Regions from separate parts of the Homo sapiens genome. Here region 1 is linked to region 2. Evidence: fine-mapped expression QTL. A gene starts in region 2. The other region holds a variant in brackets. All regions are shown on one strand. Distances are from middle to middle.

The links.
Region 1: its variant is fine-mapped to the expression of NUCB2 in whole blood (TOPMed, PIP above 0.99).

The regions. Positions count from the first base shown.
Region 1 is chr11:17,339,437-17,350,959 of GRCh38, forward strand. It overlaps LOC124902640 (a long non-coding RNA gene), which reads left to right. Exons shown (of 2, transcript XR_007062608.1): 2 at 2,365-6,609. It overlaps LOC105376576 (a long non-coding RNA gene), which reads right to left. Exons shown (of 3, transcript XR_931094.3): 3 at 11,377-11,475. It also overlaps a transcript of NUCB2 not described here. Among named protein-coding and RNA genes, the nearest start is that of NCR3LG1, 6.6 kb to the right of the region's middle. The variant T/A (reference allele first, on the strand shown) is at 7,398.
Region 2 is chr11:17,269,855-17,281,377 of GRCh38, forward strand. NUCB2 (nucleobindin 2) reads left to right here and starts at 6,885. Exons shown (of 14, transcript NM_005013.4): 1 at 6,885-6,974. RefSeq lists an enhancer at 6,439-6,528 and a silencer at 6,719-7,148.

The DNA of each region.
Region 1 (11,523 bases), 70 kb after region 2:
GTGTGCTGCACCCATTAACTCGTCATTTAACATTAGGTATATCTCCTAATGCTATCCCTCCCCCCTCCCCCCACCCCCACAACAGGCCCCGGTGTGTGATGTTCCCCTTCCTGTGTCCATGTATTCTCATTGTTCAGTTCCCACCTATGAGTGAGAACATGTGGTGTTTGGTTTTTTGTCCTTGCGATAGTTTGCTGAGAATGATGGTTTCCAGCTTCATTCATGTCCCTACAAAGGACATGAACTCATCATTTTTTATGGCTGCATAGTATTCCATGGTGTATATGTGTCACATTTTCTTAATCCAGTCTATCATTGTTGGACATTTGGGTTGGTTCCAAGTCTTTGCTATTGTGAATAGTGCCACAATAAACATACGTGTGCATGTGTCTTTATAGCAGCATGTTTTATAATCCTTTGGGTATATACGCAGTAATGGGATGGCTGGGTCAAATGGTATTTCTAGTTCTAGATTCCTGAGGAATCGCCACACAGATTTCCACAATGGTTGAACTAGTTTACAGTCCCACCAACAGTGTAAAAGTGTTCCTATTTCTCCACATCCTCTCCAGCACCTGTTGTTTCCTGACTTTTTAATGATTGCCATTCTAACTGGTATAAGATGGTATCTCATTGTGGTTTTGATTTGCATTTCTCTGATGGCCAGTGATGATGAGCATTTGTTCATGTGTCTTTTGGCTGCATAAATGTCTTCTTTTGAGAAGTGTCTGTTCATATCCTTTGCCCACTTTTTGATGGGGTTGTTTTTTTCTTGCAAATTTGTTTGAGTTCATTGTAGATTCTGGATATTAGCCCTTTGTCAGATGAGTAGATTGTGAAAATTTTCTCCCATTCTGTAGGTTGCCTGTTCACTCTGATGGTAGTTTCTTTTGCTGTGCAGAAGCTCTTTAGTTTAATTAGATCCCATTTGTCAATTTTGGCTTTTGTTGCCATTGCTTTTGGTGTTTTAGACATGAGGTCCTTGCCCATGCCTATGTCCTGAATGGTATTGCCTAGGTTTTCTTCTAGGGTTTTTATGGTTTTAGGTCTAACATTTAAGTCTTTAATCCATCTTGAATTAATTTTTGTATAAGGTGTAAGGAAGGGATCCAGTTTCAGCTTTCTACATATGGCTAGCCAGTTTTCCCAGCACCATTTATTAAATAGGGAATCCTTTCCCCATTTCTTGTTTTTGTCAGGTTTGACAAAGATCAGATAGTTGTAGATATGCGGCATTATTTCTGAGGGCTCTGTTCTTTTCCATTGGTCTATATCTGTGTTTTGGTACCAGTACCGTGCTGTTTTGGTTACTGTAGCCTGATGCCTCCAGCTTTGTTCTTTTGGCTTAGGATTGACTTGGCAATGTGGGCTCTTTTTTGGTTCCATATGAACTTTAAAGTAGTTTTTTCCAATTCTGTGAAGAAAGGCATTGGTAGCTTGATGGGGATGGCGTTGAATCTATAAATTACCTTGGGCAGTATGGCCATTTTCACAATATTGATTCTTCCTACCCAGGAGCATGGAATGTTCTTCCATTTGTTTGTATCCTCTTTTATTTCATTGAGCAGTGGTTTGTAATTCTCGAAGAGGTCCTTCACGTCCCTTGTAAGTTGGATTCCTAGGTATTTTATTCTCTTTGAAGCAATTGTGAATGGCAGTTCACTCATGATTTGTCTCTCTGTCTGTTATTGGTGTATAAGAATGCTTGTGATTTTTGCACATTGATTTTGTATCCTGAGACTTTGCTGAAGTTGCCTATCAGCTTAAGGAGATTTTGGGCTGAGACAGTGGGGTTTTCTAGATATACAATCATGTCATCTGCAAACAGGGACAATTTGACTTCCTCTTTTCCTAATTGAATACCCTTTATTTCCTTCTCCTGCCTGATTGCCCTGGCCAGAACTTCCAACACTATGTTGAATAGGAGTGGTGAGAGAGGGCATCCCTGTCTTGTGCCAGTTTTCAAAGGGAATGCTTCCAGTTTTTGCCCATTCAGTATGATATTGGCTGTGGGTTTGTCATAGATAGCTCTTATTATTTTGAAATATGTCCCATCAATACCTAATTTATTGAGAGTTTTTAGCATGAAGTGTTGTTGAATTTTGTCAAAGGCCTTTTCTGCATCTATTGAGATAATCATGTGGTTTTTGTCGTTGGTTCTGTTTATATGCTGGATTATGTTTATTGATTTGCGTATGTTGAACCAGCCTTGCATCCCAGGGATGAAGCCCACCTTATCATGGTGGATAAGCTTTTTGATGTGCTGCTGGATTCAGTTTGCCAGTATTTTATTGAGGATTTTTGCATCGATGTTCATCAGGGATATTGGTCTAAAATTCTCTTTTTTTGTTGTGTCTCTGCCAGGCTTTGCTATCAGGATGATGCTGGGCTCATAAAATGAGTTAGGGAGGATTCCCTCTTTTTCTATTGATTGGAATAGTTTCAGAAGGAATGGTACCAGCTCCTCCTTGTACCTCTGGTAGAATTAGGCTGTGAATCCATCTGGTCCTGGACTTTTTTTGGTTGGTAAGCTATTAATTATTGCCTCAATTTCAGAGCCTGTTATTGGTCTATTCAGAGATTCAACTTCTTCTGGGTTTAGTCTTGGGAGGGTGTATGCGTTGAGGAATTTATGCATTTCTTCTAGATTTTCTAGTTTATTTGCATGGAGGTGTTCACAGTATTCTCTGATGGTAGTTTGTATTTCTGTGGGATCGGTGATGATATCCCCTTTATCATTTTTTATTGCATCTATTTGATTCTTCTCTCTTTTCTTCTTTATTTGTCTTGCTAGCGGTCTACCAATTTTGTTGATCTTTTCAAAAAACCAGCTCCTGGATTCTTTGATTTTTTGAAGGGTTTTTTGTGTATCTCTTTCAGTTCTGCTCTGATCTTAGTTATTTCTTGCCTTCTGCTAGCTTTTGAATGTGTTTGCTCTTGCTTCTCTAGTTCTTTTAATTGTGATGTTAGGGTGTCAATTTTAGATCTTTCCTGCTTTCTCTTGTGGGCATTTAGTGCTATAAATTTCCCTCTACACACTGCTTTGAATGCGTCCCAGAGATTCTGGTATGTTGTGTCTTTGTTCTTGTTGGTTTCAAAGAACATCTTTATTTCTGCCTTCATTTCGTTATGTACCCAGTAGTCATTCAGGAGCAGGTTGTTCAGTTTCCATGTAGTTGAGTGGTTTTGAGTGAGATTCTTAATCCTGAGTTCTAGTTTGATTGCACTGTGGTCTGAGAGATAGTTTGTTATAATTTCTGTTCTTTTACATTTGCTGAGGAGAGCTTTACTTCCAAGTATGTGGTCAATTTTGGAATAGGTGTGGTGTGGTGCTGAAAAAAATGTATATTCTGTTGATTTGGGGTGGAGAGTTCTGTAGATGTCTATTAGGTCTGCTTGGTGCAGAGCTGAGTTCAATTCCTGGATATCCCTGTTAACTTTCTGTCTCGTTGATCTGTCTAATGTTGACAGTGGGGTGTTAAATTCTCCCATTATTATTGTGTGGGAGTCTAAGTCTCTTTGTAGGTCTCTAAGGACTTGCTTTATGAATCTGGGTGCTCCTGTATTGGGTGCATATATATTTAGGATAGTTAGCTCTTCTTGTTGAATTGATCCCTTTATCATTATGTAATGGCCTTCTTTGTCTCTTTTGATCTTTGTTGGTTTAAAGTCTGTTTTATCAGAGACTAGGATTGCAACCCCTGCCTTTTTTTGTTTTCCATTTGCTTGGTAGATCTTCCTCCATCCCTTTATTTTGAGCCTATGTGTGTCTCTGCACATGAGATGGGTTTCCTGAATACAGCACACTGATGGGTCTTGACGCTTTATCCAATTTGCCAGTCTGTGTCTTTTAATTGATTTAATGGTGAGAGAGAAAAAAAAATTGCATCTAGTTCTCTTTGCTATCTCCCATGAATCATTGCATTTAACATGTTATTTCTGCTCAACTTTAGTTCATTTTCAATGTGCATTTTTAGTGATGTCAGAGTATGTGTCATTTAATTAAATCCCCGCCCTTGCTTTAGATTTTCTGTGCATGGGGTGTGAGGCACATATGCAGTCTGTGCCATGTTGTATTTGTTTTGTACCATGTTGTTTGGCCTATTTTGCTTCCATGCTGTCCTCCATTGTTAAGGTGATTTGGAGTTGTTTTACTTTTGAATTTTATCCTTTCTGTTCTTGGTGTGACAACTTTCTAAATATTTCCTTATTAAAGTAGTGATATATAGATGATTTCCTTTTTAAAGCATATTTACTATGTCCTTTAATGTTTTAAACAGTTTTATGGAGGTATTTATTGAAGTATTTTTATCAAACATGACTATTTAAAATCCCTATCAACTTTGTGTAGTGATTCTTTCTTGTTCTATGACACTTAGTAATATATCTTAGAATTTGCATCTTAATTTTTTTCTAACTAAATCTCAGTCCTAATCCCATATCATTTTTTATTTCTTTTGATATGTGTGTGTATTTATTCCCTTTGATGTTCATAGTATGTTTCATTGAGGTTCAAGGTTGATTTTTTGGGGAAAAGAAAAAGCACCTTTGCAGAAAAGTCAGTTTTTCTAGAGCTAGTTAGGCAGGCCCTCATTCCTGGTTTGGTTTCAATTGCAGAGAGTTCTTGTATCTCTGCAGGGGAATTTCTGACTCATGGGGTGGGTCCCTGACTCCTTACTCCTCTCTGATTGAGTGAACCAGCATCTGGGGCAAATACGTAGCAGTCAGATGCTCTGATGAATGTCCCTGTTCAGTTCTTTGACTTTTTTGTATCCTCCTTAAATAATAATGGTTTTAAAGATAAGCAGAAGCCTATCTATAGTACTTTATAGATCTCAGCAGGGATTATTCATCTTACAGTTAATACAGGAAGAAACATCTTTGATACGGAAAGACTAGGGTGTTAATTCAGCAATCTCTGGTTAGGAGAAAAGTAGCCTAGTTTATTACTTCTTCACTACTTTTGCCTGGATGACCTGAATTTTAATCAAGAAGTTCTTTCCTCTCTATATGCGCTCCCCCATTTTCCCACTTTTGTATTGACTTTCCCACTATTGTATTTCTAATGCACCTTCTTAATCACTGGAGAAAGCTTTGAGGCATGTAAGAGGTCCTAGCACCATTTTCAGTCTTAAAGTTTCATAGCCACCAGCTTTATGGGACTCTATTATCAGGCCTTTCAAACAAATTCTTCCCTTCCCTCACAATCCCAAGCTATTGATCTTTTCTCTAAGGAAGCCTTTTGTATTACTAATTAAGACTAGGTGACTATATTAAAACAGGGTTATCTTCTAAAAGATTTATATAAATGATAAAACAGAGGCTAAGTATTTTTGTAAGGACAGCAATTTGAAGTCAGTTAATGCCTAGAGTGACTGTTTCATTCTTCTGCTATGGCTCTGGTGACTTCCTGATAATTCTGTCCGAGCCCCTGTGTCCAGTTCCAGGACCTAAGAATGGAAGAGCTCTGGAGGCTGAAGGTGGAAGATGGATCCCCCTTTCAGGGACAGTGAAAGGAGGGTTAATCTTTCCTGAAGCTGTTAGTCTGGTATCTATTAGCACACATGAGAATTAGAAACCTTGCAACTTTAGAAATAGTATCTGTGTAGTAAATGCTGTCTGTGTACCAATTTGTATAGCTTTTAATAGAAATATCTTATTTTTGGATGGAAAATGTGTGTAAGCTTGTGACTAAAATAGTTCTGGATGGAAGACCATTCAGTATCTTCTGAAAAAAAAATTGTCTTCTGGAACTAAAACATGAAAAAAAAACCTATCCATTATTGCTTTTTTTTAAATAAAGAAAACCAGTGCTGTGTAATCCATATTTTACCAATATTAATTATGTCTTAGAACCATTTAAGAATGATGGTTTACATATCCTATTTTAAAGTCAAGATTTTAAAGAGCTTTTATTTGTTATTACTAATTATTGGGAGAATATTGAAAAATTTTCAATTTAAATGTTGAATTAAAAATGTAACCTTTTTGGCTGGGTGCGGTGGCTCACGCCTGTAATCCCAGTACTTTGGGAGGCCAAGGCGGGTGGATCACGAGGTCAGGTGTTAAAGACCAGCCTGGCCAAGATGGTGAAACCCCATCTCTACTAAAAATACAAAAATTAGCCGGGCGTGGTGGTGGGCGCCTGTAATCCCAGCTACTCAGGAGGCTGAGGCAGGAGAATCACTTGAGGCCGGGAGGCGGAGGTTGCAGTGAGCCGATAACGCACCACTGCACTACAGCCTGGGTGGCAGAGCGACACTCCGTCTCAAAAAAAAGAAAAGTAACCTTTTATAAATATGGGGCTGAAAACGTTATTTTTAAATTTTGGAAAAAGTTCTACTAGCTTGAAGATTACTTAGATTTATTTTTTCTTGGCTTATTTAGATATTTGGCCTATTTTTAAAACTATAAATAAATAATTGGATTTTAATTTGATAGAGAATCAGAAAAACAGAGACTTTATATAATTTTTGTTACATTTGAATTCATTTTATAAATATATGTTGTAAAAATTCTTCCAGTGCAATATTTTTTGGAAAATATTGTTCTAGTCGTTGTTTGTATAGGTTTATTTCTAATTATATTAAAAGTAAAATTAGAAAAATATGTAATATTTGTTGTAATTTTCTGGGAAAAAAGATTTGACAATGTTAATAGAATGGATTATTTGTAAAACACCAATATTAGAGAGTCATAGAGCCTGAGTAAGGGCCTTAGATACTATCTTCCAATGAAGGAACCCCTTCTCCAGCATGGCTAGTAAGTGGTTATCCACCTCCTGCTTCAAGTCTTCCAGTGATAGCATTGAAGTGGAAATCACAGTGGTTTCCAGGCTTGTCTGCATATTGGAATCACCTAAGAGATACAAAAAATACTGGTACCTGGGTCCCATCTCCAGGTGATTCTAATATGCAGACAAGTTTGGGAACCAGTGGTAAATCATGTGGAAAAGCACCTCACTCTTTTTCATCATTAGAGAATCCATAATGGAAAGGAAACCTGGCTGATGTTATGAAGAGTCTAATAAGCATTTAGATGTCATTGAGAGCATTTATAGCCACACTCCCTACCCTTCAGTGTTGTATGATAAATAAATATTTCCATTTAAATTCAAGAACCATTTAATAAGATAGCACACTGACAGAGTCCATGATGTTGGTATAGTGGAAAGTCCTGGACTGGGTGTTAGGACTTCTAGCTGCCCAACTTTAAATAATTTTAGCCTTACAAAAAATTTGCAAAAATAGTATAAAGAATTCCCATATGCCCTTCATCTAGCTTCCTCAAATATCAACATGTTATATAACTACAGTAAAAGTATTACAATCAGGAAATTAACATTGATACAATTCTATAAACTAATCTGCAAATTTTGCCAGTTATCCTACTATAAA[T/A]TTTTTCTGCGCTAAGATCCAATCTGGGATCACACATTGCATTTAGTTTTGTTATGTGTTTGTTATTTTGAAAAAAAATTAAATCATTGCAACGATAGTATAATGAATTTGTGAACCCCGAAAATTTGAGACAGGTCTCAGTTAATTTAGAAAGTTTATTTTGCCAAGGTTGAGGACACAGCCATGACACAGCCTCAGAAAGTCCTGACGACATGTGCCCAAGGTGGTCGGGGCACAGCTTGGTTTTATACATTTAGAGAGACATGAGACATCAATCAATATATGTAAGAAGTACATTGGTTTGGCCTGGAAAGGCAGGACAACCTGAAGCAAAGGCAGGAAGGCTCTAAGTGCGGTGGGAGCTTCCAGGTCACAGGTGATACACAAAGGGTTACGTTCTTTTGAGTTTCCCATTTTGAGTTTCTACCTTTCCAAAGGAGGCAAGTCAGATATGCATCTATCTCCGTGAGCAGAGGAGTGACTGAATAGAAACAGGGCAACAGGAGACAGGTTTACCCTAAGCAGTTTTTCATCTTGAGTTTTCCTTAGTGATTTTGGGGACCCAAAATATTTTCCTTTCACAAATTCTAGTATACCTTGCTTTCACTCTTTCTGTCCAATTCTTTGTTTGACTGAAGCGTTTCAGAATTAAGCTGCAAACATTGTGATCCCTTACCCTAAATATGTGAGCATCTCTTATGAACAAATATTTTTTTAATCATAACCATCATATAATTATCAAATTTGGGAAATTTAACATTGTTACAATACTATTAATCTAACACATAGTCCGTATTCAAATTTCACCAACTGTCTCAATACTGTCCTTTATAATAATTTTTTCATGATCCAGGATTTGTGTGTTGGATTTTGTTGTAAGGTCTCTTTAATTTCCTTTGATCTGGAATAGCTCCTCAGTTGTATTTTGTCTTTCATGACATTTACATTTTTTGAGAGTACAGGTCATTTGTTTTATAGAATGGCTCTCAATCTGCATTTGTCTAGACTGGTCTTTCTCACAGTGTGGTCTGTGACTGGTGCTGGTCTATGCCTGGCTGTTACCTAATGGTGAGAAGGCCAACCAACATTACTCATGCTGTTGGAAACTTTTATAGCAATTCAAAAATAATTTTATGTCTTTTGAATCTAAGAATAAAAATTGAGGGCTTGGATTTTTATGTCTTTTTATTTCATTTCTCTAGTAATTCATTTTTATTTCACAAAATGACAGTTCTTCGTGGGTTGGACACTTATTTTTTATTTTTACTTTTATTTTTTAGAATTAAGAAAAAATAATAGAGACAGGATCTTGCTATGTTGGCCAGTTGGTCTTGAACTGTTGCCCTCAAGCAGTCCTCCTGCCTCTGCCTCCCAAAGTGGGTGAGCCACCATGCCTGGCCAGGTTGGACACTTTTAAAGAGTCCTTCAGCACAGCTACTTGGAACAACAATGGTCTAGAATGAGGTGTTTTTTGTTTGTTTTTGTGTTTTTTTTTTTTTTTTTTTTTTTTTTTTTTTTGGAGACAGAGTCTCACTCTGTCACCCAGGCTGGAGTGCAGTGGTGCAATCATGGCTCACTGCAGCCATGACCTCCTGGCCTTGAGCCATCCTCCCTCCCACCTCAGCCTCTCAAATAGCTGGGAATATAGGTGACACCACCACACCCAGCTAATATCTTGATTTTTTTTGTGGAGATGGGGCCTCACTATGTTGCCTAAGCTGATTCCAAACTCCTGAGCTCAAGTGATCCTCCTGTCTTGGCTTCCCAAAGTGCTGGGATTACAGGCATAAGCCACTACACCTGGCCTAGACAGATTTTTTGAAGCTAAGGACTGTGCTTTAGCCATCGCTGAATTCGTCACTCCTAGATTGTGCCTGGCAGAGTTCAATAAATTGTTGCTGAGGGGCAACTTGAAATGTCCCATTCCTTTAATAGAAAAGCTTTCCTTTCCTTTTTTTTTTTGAGACAGAGTCTTACACTTGTCACTCAGGCTGGAGTGCAACGGCATTGATCTCGGCTCACTGCAACCTCCGCTTCCCGGGTTCAAGTGATTCTCCTGCTTCAGCCTCCCGAGTAGCTGGGATTACAGGCGTCTGCCACCACACCTGGCTAAGTTTTGTATTTTTAGTAGAGACAGGGTTTCACCATGTTGGCCAGGCTGGTCTCGAACTCCTGACCTCAGGTGATCCACCCGCCTCGGCCTCCCAAAGTGCTGGGATTACAGGTGTGAGCCACCGCGCCCAGCAGAAAGCTTTTCTTATACTGAGCCAAAATCTCTCTCCAACTTGCTTTTGCCTTCAAGAACATCACCTAACATGTGTACTCACATACACAGGTGTTAGCTTTTCAGAGACTTACAAGACTGGTACCATTTCTTAAACCCCCAGGCTACTCCAAACAAAATGGGCTCAGCTCCTTTACTCATTTGTAGTGATTAGGATTAGGTTCTGCTGAAAATGAGAACATTTTAAATAAGAGTAGCTTACTGACTTTATTTCTTATGTTCCACAGGTCCAGAGGTGTCCTTCTAAAGCTGGTAGAGGTTTCACGAGTCATCAGGGACCCAGAACCCTTCTCTTTTGCTGTCCCTTTGTCCTAGTGCATGGTTTCCACACTGTGGTGCAAGATGTCTCCTCAAGCTCTAGGCATTACATCTGCTATCCTGCTGTCAGAAAGAAGGAAGGGGAAAAGAAGATCATTTCCTTCTCTTTAAGGACATTTCCCAGAAGTCACACAGAACATTTCCATTTATATTACTTTGGCCAGAACTTGGTCATATGGCCACATTTAGTTCCAGAATGATTAGGAAATGCAGTCTTTTATTGATCCCTGTGCCCAGGAAAATATTGGAGGCCTTTTTCAAGGAAAAAGGGGAAAACAGATATTGGTTGACAAATAGCAGTCTCTGCCATACTGTCCCTGGATACATGTCTTTGAGTGAATGTCCCTTATTTACCATTCTGATTACTTGTTGGATATTTTCAATATGTGTTACAATATGGTTCCAAAATTGTATGTGATATTCCAACAGCAAGTTGGATGCAATGTGTCATAAAAATGACCTCAGTGTCAACCAGCATTTGAATACCGTGTCTCAATGCTGTGCACCAATAAAGAACACAGAAAGTCAGAGTTTTCCATAAATAATTCCTGAGAATATATGCTTATTTTGTTTGAGAAGCATCGTGAGGTATCTGCTGTGTGCTTTAGGGTTGAATGGAAAGTTGGCAAAAGTATTAAAAGACATGTTCAGGCCGGGTGTGGTGGCTCACGCCTGTGATCCCAGCACTTTGGGAGGCCGAGGTGGGCGGATCACTTGAGGTCAGGAGTTCAAGACCAGCCTGGCCAACATGGTGAAACTCTGTCTCTACTAAAAATACAAAAATTAGCTGGGTGTGGTGGCAGGCACCTGCAATCCCAGCTACTTGGGAGGATGAAGCTGAGGCACAATAATCTCTTGAACCTGGGAGGCAGAGGTTGCAGTGAGCTGAGATCACGCCACTGCACTCCAGCCTGGGCAACAGAACGAGACTCTGTCTCACCAAAAAAAAAAAAAAAAAAAAAAAAAAAAAAAAGATGTTCAAATAGACATGATATTGGTAAAAACGAAAACACAGGTAATGACTTTTCATTCTAATGAAATATAAATAGAGAAACCTGCCGGTTTTACCCTTTAGAGTAAAAAGGGTACAAAAAAATTACCAAAACAGTAAAAATTACCAAAAGAGTAATTTGATAATTTCTACAGGGTGATGTGTATGTGTCACAACTTTGTGAATCACTATTCTGGGCATGTATAAGAAGTCGTCATATACCTCCATTGGGAATGTTATTTAATGATGTCACTAATACCAGACAAGGATGTCTCCTCAGGTAAGGCTCCTTGGAGGAGGCAGAGGTTGAGAAGAGGTGTAATTTAGGTTTTAAAAATTCAATAGCTGGACTTAACCTTGCATATCTCTACCTGTTATAACGGTGGTCCGGAAGGCTGCGATCTGAAGGCCCCTCAGCTAGTTGCTGCCACTGTGGGCACTCTGCGCATCTTTCACTTCTGAGCTCTTTCTGTATGCACTCTGTTCTGCAGATAAGTGAGAATGTGACTATTTGCTTAGTCAGTGACAGTGTC
Region 2 (11,523 bases):
CGGAGACCAATATATTATTAGACATTAATAAAGCACTTTGCACCGGGCACCCTCTGCTTTACAAATATAAACTCATTTAATCCTTACCACAACTATAGGAAGCTTGAACTATTGTTGCCTGCATTTTACAAGTGGGAAAGCTGTGCTTTGAAGAGCGGGGTTAAGTGACTTGCTGGAGGACATTAGCTAATATGGATGGAGCTGGGTTTTTAATCCAGGTGGACGGGTTTCATTGTTCACGCTCTTAACCACTATACCTCCCAGATTCACTCTTTCCAGACTTGAACAACTACTCTCTAGAAAATGCACCAGGCCTAGAGTTAGGGAACTAACTCAAAACTGGGCACATGTAATAAGCAGTAGAGCCAGGGTTGGGGTCCAATTCTGACGCTAAAGCTTGTGTATTTTCCCTTGTCCAAGGTAGTGATTATGTTCTTAATTAGTATTATAGAACAGTTGGAATACACAAGGTAGTGACTATGGTTTCTGTTGTTGTTGTTGTTGTTGTTGCTTTTTGTTTTTTTTTGAGACAGAATCTCACTCTGTTGTCCAGGCTGGAGTGCAATGGCATGATCTTGGCTCACTGCAACCTCCGTGTCCTGGGTTCAAGCGATTCTCCTGCCTTAGCCTCCTAAGTAGCTGGGGTTACAGACATGCACCACCATGTCCCACTAATTTTTTTGTATTTTTAGTAGAATGGGGTTTCACCATGTTGGTCAGGCTGCTTTCAGACTCCTGACCTCAAGTGATCCACCTGCCTAGGCCTCCCAAAGTGCTGGGATTATAGGTGTGAGCCACCGCGCCTGGCCCATGTTCTTTAGACATCTTTCCCACCAGGAGATTCTCTGTCAGTGCTAAACCTTCAAGTTTTAGTTTTACTTACTGTTATTATCTCACCACATAGGTTCATTTTATTGAGCTGAAAGCTTACAAAAAGTCCACTGGTCCCTGCCCTGCCCGTGTTACACTCATTCCTTCCCATGCACACTCTTGAGGATCCACAAGTGCTTCCACATAACTGGTTTCCCCCAACAAAGCACAAAGGGTGGTGCTTCAAAAGCATCCGTTGTTCCTAGCAGCAAGACTTTCAATGCTGGGGTTTTATTTATTCTTTTTCTTTTCTTTCTTTCTTTTTTTTCTTTTTTTTTTTTTTCTGAGACAGAGTCTCACTCTGTTGCCCAGGCTGGAGTGTGCAGTGGCATGATCTCGGCTCACTGCAACCTCAGCCTCCCGGGTTCAAACAATTCTCCTGCCTCAGCCTACCAAGTAGCTGAGACTACAGGCGTGCACTACCACACCCAGCTAATTTTTTTGTATTTGAAGTAGAGACGGGGTTTCACCATGTTGGCCAGGCTGGTCTTGAACTCCTGACCTCAGGTGATCTGCCCGCCTTGGCCTCCCAAAGTGCTGGGATTACAGGCATGAGTCACTGTGCCTGGCCACTTTTTATCTTTGAAAGTGTTTTATTTCAATAGTTTTTGGGGTACAGGTAGGTTTTGGTTACATGGATAAGTTCTTCAGTGGTCATTTCTGAGATTTTAGTGCACCCGGTTCCCCAGCAGTATACACTGTACCCAATATGTAGTCTTTTATTCCTCACCCTTCTCCCAACCTTACCTTCTGAGTCCCCAAAGTCTATTATATAATTCTACCTTTGTGTCCTCACAGCTTAGCTCCCACTTATAAGTGAGAACATATGATAATTGGTTTTCCATTCCTGAGTTACTTTACTTGGAATAATGGCCTCCAGCTCCATCCAAGTTGGTGCAAAATACATTATTTTGTTCCTTTTTATGAATCAGTAGTGTTCCATAGTGTATATATAACACATTTTCTTTGTGTACTTGTTGGTTGCTGGGCACTTAGGTTCGTTCCATGTCTTTGCACTTGAGAATTGTGCTGCTATAAACATGCATGTGCAAGTATCTTTTTCATATGATGACTTCTTTCCCTTTGGGTAGATACCCAATAGAGGGATTGCTGAATTGAATGGTAGTTCTACTTTCAGTTATTTAAGGAATCTCCATACTGTTTTCCATAGAGGTTGTACTAATTTACATTCCCAAGAGCAGTGTAAAAGTGTTCCCTTTTCACCACATCCATGCCAACATCTATTGTTTTTTGACTTTTTTTTTTTTTTTTTTTTGAGGCAGGATCTCACTCGGTCACCCAGGCTGGAGTGCAGTGGCGTGATCTCAGCTCACTGCAACCTCCGCCACTCGGGTTCAAGCAATTCTCCTACCACAACCTCCCCAGTAGCTGGGAGTACAGGCATCCACCACCACACCCGGCTAATTTTTGTACTTTTAGTAAAGATAGGGTTTCACCATGTTGGCCAGGCTGGTCTTGACCTCCTGGCCTCAAGTGATGACCAGCCTCAGCCTTCAAAGTGCTGGGATTACAGGTGTGAGCCATCGTGGCTGGCCATTTTTCTTTATTCTATTCCAGTGGTCTGTGTTCCTGTTTTTATGTCAGTGCCATGATGTTTTGGTAACTATAGCCTTTTTTTTTTTTTTTGAAACGAAGTCTCGCTCTTGTCCCCCAGGCTAGAGTGCAATGGCATGATCTCGACTCACTGCAACCTCCGCCTCCTGGGTTCAAGCAATTCTCCTGCCTTAGCCTCCTGAGTAGCTGGGATTACAGGCGCCTGCCACCACACCTGGCTAATTTTTGTATTTTTAGTAGAGACGGGGTTTCACCATGTTGGCCAGGCTGGTCTCGAACTCCTGACCTCAGGTGATCCACCCGCCTTGGCCTCCCAAAGTGCTGGGATTACAGGCGTGAGCCACCATGCCCGGCAGCAACTGTAGTCTTGTAGTATAGTTTGAAGTTGGGTAAGGTGATGCCTCCAGATTTGTTCTTTTTGCTTAGTCTTGCTTTGGCTATGCGGCTCTTTTCTTGTTCCATATGAATTTTAGGATTTTTTTCTCCAGTTCTGTGAAGAATGATGATTGTATTTTGATGGGAATTGTATGGAATCTGTAGATTGCTTTTGGCAGTGTTGTGGGATGTGTTTCCATTTGTTCCAGAAGGGAGTATAACTGCCTCTGCTGCACATGAGTTCACAAAGGGAGTGGGGAGTAGCAGGCAGCAGCAAGCCTCACCCAGCTCCCATGCAGTTGGCAAGGCTGGTCTTGCTCCATCAGTGCCCTGTTAGCAGCACTGAGTTTAGATCCAGGCAGTCTGTGCACACTGTGACCTGAAACCACAGCTTTCAGGTCATGCCCTTCCCTTTCTGCTGGTAAGCTGAACACCCAGCATGTATGCTTGTGTCTCCTGCACACTTCTCGCTTGCCCACTGGTTTCTGCTCAAGGGAGTTCATCCCCACTCCAGATTATATCATAAAATTCAGTTGGGAGCTTCTTTCACCTTGGGACCCCTCCCTCAGTTTGTTGGCTGGCTTCCCTGAGGGCCCCTGTAAGATACAGTCAGGAATGGCTTCCCTCCATTCACAATAGAGACTGGGAATGCCTACGAGGCACTTCCCACTACTGCTTCTACGTTTATTTATTTCACGCCACTCCCTAAATCCATTCCGGCTCTGGGGAGGGTTAAAGCCTTCTCCTGTGGACTAGAGGTTCAGATTCCCTGGTAGGAATGTGTGCTTGGAGGAAGACTCTCCCCCTCTCACACTCTGGGAATTGACAGTTTTTCACCTGTCTCACAGAGTACGCTGCAGCCTGCTGCATCTTTCAAAGGGTCTGTGGATTCTTTCCCAGCTAATTTATAAAAAGCTCTTTTTGTAGAGACAGGCGTAGGCCAGGTGCAGTAACTCATGCCTGTAATCCCAGCATTTTGGGAGGCTGAGGTGGGAGGATTGCTTGATGCCAGGAGTTCAAGACTAGCTGGGCAACATAGTGAGACCCTATCTCTAAAAGAAAAGCGGGGAAAAGAGGGTTTTAGTTGACTGAAACCAGGACAAACATAAAGAAGGTCTCCCATTCAATTTATCTGGTTCTAAAAGCAGCTTTTTCCAATTGTGCACACGAATGAACTGTTTTAGACAAGACAGGGTCTTGCTATACTGCCCAGGCTGAAACACAGTGGCTCTTCACAGGCGTGATCCCACTACTGATCAGGAAAGGAGTTTTTGACCTGCTCTGTTTCCAACCTGGACCAGTTCATGCCTCCTTAGGCAAGCTGGTGGTACTGAGACGGGAGGCAGAACTCAACTCTGGAGGCAGGGCTTGGTCACCAGACCAAATTGAGAACTAGCTGAAACAGGTTTGGAACAGAAGCACCTCCCCATAAGACACGCCCACCACTGTGCCATGTCAGTTTACCATTGCCATGACAACACCCTGAAGTTATGGCCCCTTTCTGTGGCAATGACCTGACAACTTGGAGGATGCCACCCTCATTCTAGAAATTTCTGCATAAACTGCCCATTAATTTGCATATACTTAAAAGTGGGTATAGGGCCAGACACAGTGGCTCATGCCTAGAATCCCAGCACTTTAGGAGGCCGAAGTGGGTGGACTGCTTGAGGTCAGGAGTTCGAGACCAGCCTGACCAACATGGTGAAACCCCGTCTCTACTAAAAATACAAAAATTAGCCGGAGTGGTGGCGGGTGCCTGTAATCCCATTTACTTAGGAGGCTGAAGCAGAAGAACCACTTGAACCCAGGAGGTGGAGACTGTAGTGAGCTGAGACTATACCACTGCACTCCAGCCTGGGTGACAAAGTGAGACTCTGTCTCAAAATAAATAAATAAAAATAAAAATAAAATAAAATCAGTATAAACAGGAATGCAGAACTGCCTCTGAGTTGCTGCTCTGGGCACACTGCCTACAGGGTAGCCCTGCTCTGCAAGGAGCAGTAGCTCTGCTGCTGCCGGGTACTGCGGCTTCAATAAAAGTTGCTGTTTAACACCACCAGCTCACGCTTGAATTCTTTACTGGGTGAAGCCAAGAATCCTCAATTTTGGCGCTTTCCTGTCCTGCATCAGTCTCCTGCTCCTAGGAGTTCACCCTTGTTTGTTTGTTCGTTTTGAGGCGGAGTTTCGCTCTTGTCGCCCAGGCTGGAGGGTCCTCTTCTCCTGAACCTCAAAAAGGAGCCTAACCTTGAGGTACTGATCTATGTATGTGGATGAGAAGTGTTAGTAAAGATAATTGAGGCCAGGTGTGGTGGTTCACGCTTCTAATCTTTGAGAAGCTGAGGAAGGCAGAGCGCTTGAGTCCAGGACTTCGAGACCAGCCTGGATAACATGGCAAAAATCCGTCTCTACAAAAAAATGCCAAAAAATTAGCCAGGCGTGGTGGTGTGTGCTTGTAGTCCCAGCTACTTGGGAGGCTGAGGTGGGAGGATTGCCTGAGCCTGCGAGGTTGAGGCTGCAGTGAGCTGAGATTGCGCCACTACACTTCAGCCTGGGCAACAGAAGGAGACTCTATCTCTAAATAAATAAATAAATACGATTGGGTTGAAATCTAGAGACCTAAGTTATAGTCCCAGCTCAGCCACTAATCTGAGAATGGTTAACATTTATTTAAAATTTCCTATGTGCCAGTCACTTTTTAAATTAATTTGCTATGCTGTAAGTAGGAGGGTACTGTTATTATGTTCATTTTACAGACAAGGACATGGAGGCAGAGAGCACTTAAATAACTGGCAAATTACACGGTTAGGGGCACACAGAGTCCAGTTGTGCAACAGAGGCAATCTGGCTGGTAGTACTTCCTGATAACAGAAGCTTTCATTGCTAACATACTATGTGGCAGATTCTGTACTGTGTGTTTTTGTTTGTTTGTTTTTTTGAGACAGGGTCTCACTCTGTGGCACAATGATCATGGTTCACTGCAGCCTCGGCCTTCTGAGCTCAAGTGATCCTCCCGCCTCTGCCTCCGCCTCCTGAGTAGCTGGGACTACAGATGTGCGACACAGCACCTGGCAAATTTTTAAGTATTTTCTTCAGACTGAAACATCATTGTGTTAAAGATAAAAAAGTAAAAAATATTCTTGTAGAGATAGGATCTCACTGTTGTCCAGATTGGTCTCAAATTTTTGAGCTCAAGCCATCCTCCTGCCTTGGCCTCCCAAAGTGCTGGCATTACAGGGTGAGTCACCATGCCTAGTCTGTACTGTTTTCCTGGCAATGTTATCTCATTCAATCTTCGTGAATAACCCTAAGGTAGATATGATACCAATTTTTCAGGTGAAAAAAACTAATCGGCAGGATGAAACTTCGTAAACAGCCTGTGGCTCCAAAAGCTTCTGGAAGGCTCAAGCTACCCATGTGCATCTTTGAGCCTCAGTTTCCCCATCTTTAAAATGAGGGGTTTGGAATAGATGTCTGTTCTCTGGGGCAGGATGCAGAGGAAAGAGCTGTCTGCGAATGGGCAAGAGAGAAGGTGGGTAAATACAGTTAAACCACAGTGACCGAGGGCCCAGCACAACGGGGGTGGGTGCGGTTACAAATGCCGTTAAGATTCCCGCCAAGGCGGAGGACGGGGGTGTCAGAGCCGAGCGAGGCCTGTGGGCGAGAATAGGCCTGACAGCCATTCTCCGACCTGCGTGGGCGCTGCAGGCGCAGGCCAGAGGCCAAGGGAGAGGCGATCCCTGGGGCTCTGCCCGGGTCTCAGGACGGCACCTCACCCGCCCGAGTCCTGCTCCACAGGATTCTCCGGGTAAGCTAGGGAAGGAAGAGGCGCGGCCTCCTGAGCCCGCATCTCAGAGCGCCACGTCCCTCCTGGCTCAGCCTCCCACCAGGCTCCACAGCTTCGGCCCTCCTCACCGCCCGCCTCCAGGCTCCCCGGCGCGGCCTTGTCCCTGCTCCCGCCAATCGGCGTCGTCAGCAATCGCGAACCGGACCAATCAGCGGCCGCAGAGTGTGGGAACTGTCGCCATGGCAGCCAGGAGGCGGGCGCGCGCGGCGGGAGGAGGGGCAGAGCGGAGCGGTGGGCCGGGGGCTGGAGGACAGGTTTGTGCGCTGGACGCAAGCACCAGGCGCAGCCTCGCTCGCCGAGACCCGGCCAGGTAAGGCCGGTGGCCGCGCGGTAGGTGCGGAGCAGCGCGGCGGGAGATTAGGGGTGGGGGAGTCCGGAGATAAGGCTCCGGTCTTCGCCTGCCTTGCCAGAGCAGAGAGGATGGTGGGGGCCGTGCTGTGGGCGGGGCACCGGCGGGGAGGGGGCTCCCAGCGCGAGCCGGAGGCGCTGGGTTCCCTCTGCTCCACTCGCAGCTGGGCACCCGAGCTTTCTTCGGGGTCGAGGAGGGTGGCTGGCTCTTGGCGGGGAGCAGGAGAGGGTAGGTGCCAAACCGAGACCCTGGCGGGGTCCCTTCGGGTTTGGGCAGGTCGATGGGCAAGGGGGTGCCCACTAGTGAGGAGGGACACCCACCAATTCCAGGCGATGCTCCCCTGTGCCGCTCAGCAAAGCTAGGCCCGGGGATCCTGCTCTTCTCCGGTCTGGTTAAGCCAGCAACCTCTGACACTTAGGAGAAAGTTAGTGTAAGTCGTGATATGCTTTTCACTTAAGTGACAAATTAGGTACGAGATGAACCCTTTTGGTTTTAGGAGATGAGAAACAGTATTTCCTTGTTGCACCTGCTAAGTGGCAACTCAGTGAGCAAATATGGTTATTGTGGTTGGTGTTTGCAACGGTCTTAGATGACAGTTATTTTACAGTATCAAATGGCTGGGAGAGGGAGGGAAAGAAGGAGAGAGAGAGAGAGAATATGAGGGAATGAGAATGAACGGGAACCATTATGATTTTTGAGAGACAGAACCTCTTGAAATTCTATGTCTGCTAAACTTCTAAATTGAATAATGTACATTTTATGCAATTGAATAAGCTAGTGCTACCATTTAAGCCTGCTACTAAGGCTCTGTTAAATCCGTGGACGAATATGAACACTAAAAGATATTACCTTGGTTTAAAAATAGGGGAGGTTAAATGCAAATATTTCTGATAGTGAATTTTGTTTGAGGGAGATTGTGGACTTTCCCTATGGGAAAGTTAAAGAATTGATGAGATAGATGCTTTAAGGAATGTTTTTGTTTTTTGAAACTTGAATAAGTTCAACAAATGTTGAACAAATATTTCAACAAATCTTCTTCAGCTAATAGGGTCAAAAATTAAAATTCTGGAAATTTAGAATTAGAAATGAAATCTCAAATAATGTCACTCTCCTAATTAGGATGAACATGGAAACTTCTATTTCTCATCGTGGTCTTCAAGCTTTCCATGATCTCATCTACCTTTGTAGTAGGGGGTCAAATTTTTTTTTTAACTAGACAATTTTAGAAACTTAAAGGAGGCAAAAATTTATTTCTGTCTCCGTGTGTTTACTCATGCTCTTCTCTATCCAAATTTTACCCATCTTTTTTTTTTTTTTTTTTTTTTTGAGATGGAGTCTCACTCTGTCACCCAGGCTGGAGTGCAATGGCCCGATCTCAGCTCACTGCAGCCTCCGCCTCCCGGGTTCAAGGGATTCTCCTACCTCAGCCCATCGAGTAGCTGGGATTACAGGGACCCACCACCACAGCCAGCTAATTTTTTGTATTTTTATTAGAGACGAAGTTTCACCATGTTGGCCAGGCTGGTCTCGAACTCCTGACCTCAGGTGATCCACTTGCCTTGGCCTCCCAAAGTGCTGAGATTACAGGTGTGAGCCACCGTGCCTGGACGACCCATGTTCTAAGAGTCGAATCTGTCTATGTTGTGTTTACCTTTCTTTGCTCTCCCAAGGTACATATTGTTCATATCACGTATTTTGTATATATTCTTTCAGCATGCTTTTTGCCAAGTTGGTTTGCGCTCTGTGAATAACAGTTGAGATAAAATGCACAATTAAGACAATTAAGGTACTTTTCAAGACACAACTAATTATGGGCACTAATATCAATAACATCAATTCAGATGTCTTTTTTGTTTTGGGATATGTTATTAATCTCTGAACACATACTAAACTAATTTTGCATTACTTAGAATAATATGTAAATTACTTTCCACTTTCTAAGGACCCTTTTGAAGGCTGGGTTCTACAAAATACCCTTTTGAGTACTGGGTAGCTGGCAGAAGCAAGTGCAGGATTTAAAAATGTATTGAAAATAATCCTTTAGGCCGGGCATGGTGGCTAATGCCTGTAATCCCAGCACTTTGGGAGGCTGAGGCGGGTGGATCACTTGAGTCCAGGAGTTCAAGACCAGCCTGGCCAACATGGTGAAACCCCGTCTTTACTAAAAATACAAAAATTAGCCAGACGTAGTGGCGGGCATCTGTAATCTCAACTACTCAGGAGGCTGGAGCAGGGGAATCGCTTGAACCTGGAGGCGGAGGTTGCAGTGAGCCGAGATCGCGCTATTGCACTCCAGCCTGGGCAACTAGAGTGAAACTACGTCTCAAAAACAAAACAAAAAACAGGCTACTAACAATTTCAAATAATTTATTCAAGGAAAAACTTCAATCACTTTCATTATTTCCAATCAAAAATTTTTTTTACAACCATGATGTGGTGAAAAGTATACTTAGTTAGAATTTCATGGCCAGATTCCAGTACGGGCTCTGCCAAACGAACTTGGCCAAGTCAGTTAACTTCCTTCTGTATTTATAACCTTTTATAAAAGTAGGGCTGAATTAGATTACAGTAGTCCTCCTTTATCCTAGAGGGATATGTTCCAAGGGTCCCAATGGATGCCTGAAACTACAGGTAGTACCAACCCTTATATACGCTATGTTTTTTGCTATACATACATAATAATAAAATGAATAACAGTAATACACTGAAATGAAAGTTATATGAATGTGATCTTTCAAAATATCTTGTTTTACCTCAGGTAATTGAAACTGCAGAAAGTGAAATCGCAGATTAGGGAGGACTACTGTACCTCCAAGATTATTTCTGATCTTAGAATTCTCTGATTCTAAAATCCTAAAGCAGCCTAATAGAAGTTCAGATAGTAGTTACTTGATTTTATTTTTGGCAGAGCATTTTTTTTTTTTTTTTTTTTTTTTGAGACAGGGCCTCACTCTGTTGCCCAGGCTGACTGGAGTACAGTGGTGTGATCATGGCTCACTGCAGCCTGGAACTGCCAGGCTCAAGTGATCCTCCTACCTCAGCCTCCTGAGTAGCTAGGACTAAAGGAGCATGCCACCACACCCTGCTAATTTTTAAGTATTTTTTTGTAGAGAAGAGGCCTCGCCATGTTGTCCAGGCTGGTCTCAAACTTCTAGGCTCAAGCGATCTGCCTGTCTTGGCCTCCCAAAGTGCTGGAATTACAGGCATGAGCCACTACACCTGGCCTTGGCAGAGTTTTTTTTGGCAGTGTATTTTAATTATCTGAAGTACAGTATATGTAAATAATAAAGAGATTATAATTTTAATAATATGTTTATTGAGTGATACAGATCTGTTTTTCATAAGCCTATAATCTAGGATACTCCAATCCGTTGTTAAGACTGGAAAAAAAGGAGATATAATAGTTTCATTGATGAGTGTCCTTTTCTACAGATGTAGACAACAGAGGCTCTAAGATCTATACTAATGTCTTGATCAGGGAAAAGCTGGAGTCCAACTCAGCTGGTCATACACTTGATATTTTATTTGAACCTCACTTTCCTGTTGACTTTCATTTTCAAAGGGAAAATGGAGGTGAGCACCAGGTTATCTGTGGCCTTTGAAACTGGTGCCATGGAGAAACTCAAAAGCCGTTTATTTTTCTTCACCCTACCCTGTTTCATCATTAGATTTGTGACATTGATAGTAAGAAGAAGCAATCCACGTTTCCTAGCTCAAGGCAGTGTCTTAGAGAAGGAAACCTGAGTCTCTTGCTACAGTTCTGATTTAAGGTTGGAAGGAAGAGATTATGTTGGATGCATTGCTTTCATTGGTCTATGATTGCATCAGGACTTTGGTTCTGGCAATGTTCAGAGAAGAGCTCTAATGTGGCCTTTCAAAAATGACTGTAAGACCGGGCATGATGGCTCAGGCCTGTAATCCTTGGACTTTGGGAGGCTAAGGTGAGCAGATCACTTGAGCTCACAGGTTTGAGACCAGCCTGGGCAACATGGTGAAATCCCATCTCTACCAAAAATATTAAAAACTAGCTGGGCGTGGTGGTGCGTGCCTGTAGTTCCAGCTACTCTGGAGGCTGAGGCGGAAGGATGGCTTGAGCCTGGGAGGTGGAGGTTTTGATGAGCTGAAATAGCGCCAATGTACTCCAGCCTGGGTGGTAGAGTCAGACCCTGTCTCAAAAAACAAAAACGAAAACAAAAATTACTTTTAAAGTTGTATGTCAAACTGGTCTTGCTTGCTTTTTGTGTCGTTAATTTTTATTTATTTATTTTATTTATTTTTTTTAGACAGGGTCTTTCTCTGTCATCCAGGCTGGAGTACATTGGTATGCATGGCTCGACCTCCTGGGCTCAAGCAACCCTCCCATCTCAGCTTCCTGAGTAGCTGGGACTACAGGTGCACACCACTACACCCAGCTAATTTTTTGATTTTTTTTTGTAGAGGTGGGGTTTCACCATGTTGCCCAGGCTTGTTTTGAACTCCTGGGCTCAAGTGATCCACCCGCCTCAGCCTT